2 linked regions of the Homo sapiens genome follow. The protein of the gene in region 1 purifies or fractionates together with the protein of each later gene. This does not show direct contact. Each region holds a gene or a part of one and is shown in the gene's direction. Other genes may lie near its edges.

Region 1 (3,133 bases):
TATTGCATTCTGTCCTCACTGTCTTGAGGATCTTCCTCCCCGGCTCATCACTCCCCATGGGCAGCTGCCAGGGTAGGCGCTGTCACCTTCTGTTGACAACAGTCAGTAGCTCCTAAGGACTAAAACTGTTCAGCCCAGCATTCAGCTCTTTGGAGGAGTCCATCTGTCCCCCAGCACATCCAGGAGTAAGGATTCCGACTGGTCCACTCCTCATCCTGGTGTCTTCAGCTTCTCTGCTGCCATGTTCTTTGCTGGGATGGCTGCTTCCCAACTCCACCTCCAGAATCAAGGATATTCCTCCAAGCCCAGCTCGAATGCTTGATCTGCCTGGAGCCTTCCTGGTCATCCTTGGGTGACCTGGAGCTGGTGCTGTTAGAGCACTTCTGCTCTGCCCTGATGTGCAGTTGTTGTGAATGGGCCACTCCATAGTTTATCCTTCCTCACACCCCTGGGGCATAGTACCCTATTCAAGTTTGTCCAATGAGTGCATGGGTGAATTAATGAATGAATGAACAAATGAGTCTTTGCCCTAGACAACTTAAGGTCCTCACTCTGCATTAGGAGCCTCCATTTTTCTCCAGATGGTTGAAATAACCAGCCTCTGAAGGAGCCAATGGTTTGGTCACTGCTCTCTCAGCAAATTACAGTCACTGTCACTTAGCATGGAGAGTGGACGTTGCACATCACTGTGAAACCTTGCAGAGGAGGAGAGGGCAGGTTCATCAGAAGAAAGAAAGGACAAAATGACTCCTTATGAAGCATTTTGTGCCTTCTGTGAGAAAACATGTATTTAGATCAGATAAACTCTAGTCAAAATACAAAAAGGAAAAATGAAAGACCTCTGAAATAGGAACAATCTCTTGAAGAGGCAAATGACTCAAAACTGCTCAGTGGCTCTTTCAGAAAATCTAAGTAAAGTTCCCTGACAACAGAAACTGAAGAGATTGCCTGGTTCATCTTGTAGTCTTCCAAAACAGCAGATAATTTCTGAATCTCAGATGTTGAATCAGTGCAACGGGATGGATTTCTTGTTCCTAAGTGTTAAATGATCACATACATAAAAGAGTCTGAGCCTGAGCAACATAATGAGACCCTGTCTCTACAAAAAAAAAAAAAAGATTAGCCAGGCGTGGTGGTGCACACTGATAGTCCCAGCTACTCAGGAGGCTGAGGGAGGCGGATCACTTGAGCTAGAGAGTTCAAAGCTGCAGTGAGCCATGTTTGTGCCACTGCACTCCAGCCTGGGCAACAAAGTGAGACCCTGTCTGGAAAAAAAAAAAAAAAAAGCGTCTGCATAATTCCTGGTGCATTTTGTGGATATACAATATGAGTATGTGTTCCATGTTTTCAGAAATTCAAAGGAAGCGTTTCCACAATATGTGACGGTTTATTTCCCAAGAGATGAAAAGATTCATTAAGGTGCATGCTTTGATTTAACATCTGCAAACATTTAAAAAATATAACAGTGTGTGACGTAGCAGTGAGAGTACTATCTTTTTTTAAAAAGGGAAATTAAGATTTATTTCTGGCCAATGTGAACAGAAATAAGTCACTTTATCTCACTGAGCACCAATTTTACACGTGGAAAATAGAAGAATTGGACCAAATCAGCAGTTTCAAGCTGAGTTGCAAAAGTTCATGGAACCATTTCAGTCGCTTCATGGAATCGGGGTAGGCATGAGGCCCGTTGTTCTTTCAACCTGAGCCGCATGGCTCTTGTGTCTTTAAACCTTGTGGTAGGATTTTTTTTTTTTTCTGCTTTAATAAGTGAAGGGTCAGGGCACCAGTTGGTGTCTGAGATGCCCTCCAGTCTGGGGAACCCCGTAGATGCTTAGACTACTTTGAACTGAAGTATGTGCAGTCTGCCATCTCACATTAAAATGTAGGCATTTTGTCAATTGCTTTTCTTTCATCTGCACAAGAGGAAGGAGAGAACGAATCAATACAACCACTCTTTTCCTTGAGACTGCAAAGAAAATGGTTCTATAGTTTGATGGTTCTACTTCCCAGATGCTACCTCTCAGATTTATTCTCAACAGAAAATTTTTTGATTACAGCAGACCAGATCTTTATCTGTCAATAAGTTAAAAAAGATAATCTGGGCTGGATGTGGTGGCTCACTCCTGTAATTCCAGCACTTCGGGAGGCCAAGACAGGAGGATTGCTTGAGCCCAGGAATTTGAGACCAGCCTGGGCAACATGGCGAAACCCCACCTCTACAAAAAAATACAAAAAAATTATTTGGGACTGGTGGCGCATGCCTGTGGTCCCAGCTACTCGGGAGGCTGAGGTGGGAAGATCATTTGAGCCCAGGAGGTTGAGGCTGCAGTGAGCTATGATCTTGCCACTGCACTCCAGCCTGGGTGACAGAGTGAGACCTTGCCTCAAAAAGAAAAAAATAAAGAAAAGAAAATCTGAAAGGGAAAGCAGGCATCAACTTCCAGGGATCTAATAACTTCCTAACTTAAAGCAACAGAACTTACCTAACTTTTGGACTTTTCATTTTAAAACTTTGCCTCTAGCAGTGGACACTGTCCTCAACACAGCTACAGTTTATGTAACACAGAGTCCATATTATATGGGGCATGTCTGTATCAAAATGTCATATGTAGAAATAAAGTATTAAATATTAAGGTGTGGCATAATTATCTGACTTTAAAAATCATCATTTAGTGGCCGGGCATGGTGGCTCACGCCTGTAATCCCAGCACTTTGGGAGGCCAAGGCGGGCAGATCACCTGAGGTCAGGAGTTTGAGACCAGCGTGGCCAACACAGTGAAACCTTGTCTCTACTAAAAATACAAAAAATTAGCCGGGTGTGATGGTGGGTGCCTGTAATCCCAGCTACTTGGGGGACTGGGGCAGAAGAATTGCTTGAACCTGGGAGGCAGAGGTTGCAGTGAGCCGAGATCGGGCCACTGCACTCCAGCCTGGGTGACAGAACGACACTCTGTCTCAAACAAATAAGTTAATTAAATTAAATAAAAATCATCATTTAAAAATCTATTCCTGGCCAGGTGCAGTGGCTAATGCCTGTAATCCCAGCACTTCGGGTGTCTGAGGTGGGTGGATCACCTGAGGTCGGGAGTTCGAGACCAGCCTGACCAACATGGAGAAACACTGTCTCTACTAA
Region 2 (3,500 bases), on another chromosome or scaffold:
AACAAATTATCTGTTACAGGCCTGCTATGTGTTAGTGCTGTGTACTGGGATGAGGGTCAGGACTGAAGATTGTGGGTAGACTAAAAATTTGTTGCCAATTTAGGCTGATATTTCTTTAAATATATATTCGGTATATATTTACTGGGAGGGAAGAACTCATTTACTATTAATAAAACGTGTAAACAAAGATTCATTTATTTACATCTATTGGCTAAAGTAGTATTCTGGAAAATAAAAGGTACACAATAAAACATTTTTGTATTTGATATTGTGGAAAACACAAAGTACATAATAAAACATTTCTATTCAATATTCTCTTTTTGAAATTTTTCTGAACTAACATTTTCTGAAACTTTTGGGGAGACATAGTAAAAGATTTAAACCCCTCAGTTATAATTGTACAACACATTTACTTTTTAACAATTATCATTTAGCCATCCACTTCTACTAGAGATGCAATAGTAAGAAAATAAATAGACTGATATTAATACAGTGTGATAAATACTATATTCAGAAGATACACTGTGAGAGTTCATAGGAGGGATATATAACCCAGCTTTTAAAGTGTCATGGGAGTTTTCTAGAGGAGCTAACTTAACCTCAGCTAAATCTTGTAACTGGTGGATGAAGAGCCCTAGGCCCAGGATGGGGTTGTGTTTTAGAGGCGAAAGTCAAAGCCAGCCAGAGATGGGGCTGAAGAGTTAAGCAAATATATGCAAAAGAACACTTATACTATCTCATAAATATATATGGAATTTTTTTCCCCTTAGAATAGTTTTGTTTTTTTGGAGTTATTGATTTTAAAGCTTTTTTCTTTTCCTTTTCCTTTTTTTTAACCTGCTTCACTTTTTTTTCTCCTTCTTTTAATCACTATCATTCTCAAAATGTTTGTTTAAAATGGAAGTGTATATGTAGCTATTGCCTTATATTTAGTGCTCATCCACATTAAGGTCTAAAGTAGTATACTTTGAACTTGAGGTATAAGTTTAGGCTAATTGTATGGAATGTGAGACTATTTTGAAAGGGGGGCAGTAACTTTACTGTTGGAATCAGCTGAGTGATCCCAAAGTACAATTTTAAAATTGTTTAGTAACAGAACAGATTCTTTCTAGACCAGAAATAAATGCTATTACTGGCATCCCAAGACAACCACTAACCCAATTTAAATGAAGGGAATTCATTTCTTACTGACCTCCATTTAAAATGTTGACCCATTATCCCAAATGCCAGTTTTACTGGTATGAATGATATATAATCAAAAGGTCACCCATCTTATTTCACTTATAAAGGTTACTAGATACAATAGAAATAGAAAATATTTGCCTCAACTAGGAACTTTCCTAGGTAGTGTAAGATTCTAATTAAACATTTGTTTACTATATTAGCATTTTTAATAGCCAACATAATAATTGCATTATTCCAGGAATTGTCCCAGGTATATTATTTTTTCTTGTGACTGTTCTATTAAGTAGGTAGTATTATCACCACCTCCCACTACGACTTTATTTTTTGAGACAGGGTCTCACTGTGTCGCCCACGCTGGAGCGCAGTGCTGTGATCATGGCTCACTGCAGCCTTGAGCTCCTGGGCTCAGGCCATCCTCCCACCTCAGCCTTTCTAGTAGGTGGGAATATAGGCATGTGCCACCACGCCTGGCTAATTTTTTAAATTTTTTGTAGAAATGGGGTTTCAGCCGGGTGTGGTGGCTCACGTCTGTAATCTCAGCACTTTGGGAGGCCAAGGTAGGCAGATCACGAGGTCAGGAGATCGAGACCATCCTGGTTAACATGGTGAAACACTCTCTCTACCAAAAACACAAACAATTAGCCGGGCGTGGTGGTGTGCGCCTGTAGTCCCAGCTACTTGGGAGGCTGGGGCAGGAGAATGGCGTGAACCCAGGAGGCGGAGCTCACAGTGAGCCGAGATAACACCACTGCACTCCAGCCTGGGTGACAGAGTGAGACTCTGCCTCAAAAAAAAAAAAAAAGAAAAAGAAAAAAAGAAATGGGGTTTCACGATGTTGCCCAAACTGGTCTCCAACTCCTGGGCTCAAGTGATCTAATTGCCTCAGCTTCCCAGAGTGGTGGGATTACAGGCATGAGCTGCTGTGCTTGGCCATACCCTCATTTTATAGATGAGAAAACTGAGACTTAGATTAATTAATTTGCCCAAGATCATATAGTGACAAGAGCCAGGATTCAAACCCAGGTCCTTCTGATTCTAAAGTCCATGCTTTTAACTACTATGCTTTTATGTATTTTTTATTTAAATTTTATAATGTTTATATATAGTTATAAACATTTTATTATAATAGATATTATTTTATGTTTATTTTTTATTTAAGCTAATTTTCACTTTTGCAAAGAAAATATTGGTACTCTTGGTTAATTTCTGTCATCCATTCAATAAATATTGAGCACTTGTTTTGAGTCAGGCACTGTGCTGAGTGCTGGATATATAGTGCTGAGCAAGTCAGACAAGATCCCTGCCTTTGGGGGACTTGCCTTCTGGTGAGGAAGACAGTCAGTAAACAGGTATGTAGGCAAGATAAGTACAGATTGTGGGGAGTTATAAGGATAATAAATATGGTGAGGTTCAGGAATAGAGAAGAAAGAAGGGTTAGATGGACTTTCAGATAGAGTGATTAGGGAAGGCCTCTCTGTGGAGACCACTTTGTGCAGAGACCTGATTAGGGAGGAACCATTTGTTTGCCAAATAAACAGTAACTGTTCTGTCTTGAAATGGGTATGTCCGTATTAAAATGAAGCCAATAATTTTGCCTACTGAGAATAATACATGTAAAGCCCTTAGCACAATACCTGGTATATAGTCAGAACTCAAATGTTATTATTATTAAAACAGTAATAGCATTACAGCATCAGATTTACTGGTTGTGTGTTTTTTACAGTGTTCCAAAATTAATGACTCTTACGTAGCTCATGTTGAAGGTGCTGTGTCACTGAGAATTTTTTTTTTTTCCCCCTAAGCATCTGTTATGGCTGGCATGGTATTAGGCCTTGCAGATATAGCTAGGAACATTCCTTTATGGTTATAAAGAAATCAGGAAATTGATGGTGTTTTTCTTTTAGTTTTGAAAATATCACTAAACTTGTTACTATGGTATTATGTGTGATAAGGCTGTTGGTTTTGTTCTTTCACAAGACCTCATTCTTGAGTGATATTTAAATTAATGATTCAGTAATATACTGGCCTATGGTAATTGAAAACATGGAAAGTGAAAGGGCAGTTTTAAAGTCTCATAGAGTCAAAAAATAAGGTTGGAATTGCATAGTCCTAATATAGTACCTAGCTGGTGGAGTAGAGTGAACTCATAGTATGAACAAAATCATTTCTATAGCTTCTTCAATTGAGTGGAAACCTAGTTGTCCAAAAGAGTTAATTAAATTTAGCTCCAGAGGTTTTACCCAGAGAGTAGTTTTATTAGAAAGATTGGAAGCAATGGTATTGGAAGGATTAACATTTTGCAGTCCGGGGAAAGC

What was found.
Region 2: the proteins of TMEM213 (region 1) and DCUN1D5 purify together in Homo sapiens (affinity purification with mass spectrometry; one large-scale study listed by BioGRID and IntAct). This does not show direct contact.

Annotation. Positions count from the first base shown.
Region 1 is NC_000007.14:138,804,127-138,807,259, forward strand, and holds the end of TMEM213 (transmembrane protein 213 precursor), read left to right. Parts: 3' UTR 1-2,633; downstream 2,634-3,133.
Region 2 is NC_000011.10:103,085,661-103,089,160, reverse strand, and holds part of DCUN1D5 (DCN1-like protein 5), read left to right. Parts: intron 1-3,500. UniProt on the Homo sapiens protein: Contributes to the neddylation of all cullins by transferring NEDD8 from N-terminally acetylated NEDD8-conjugating E2s enzyme to different cullin C-terminal domain-RBX complexes which is necessary for the activation of cullin-RING E3 ubiquitin ligases (CRLs).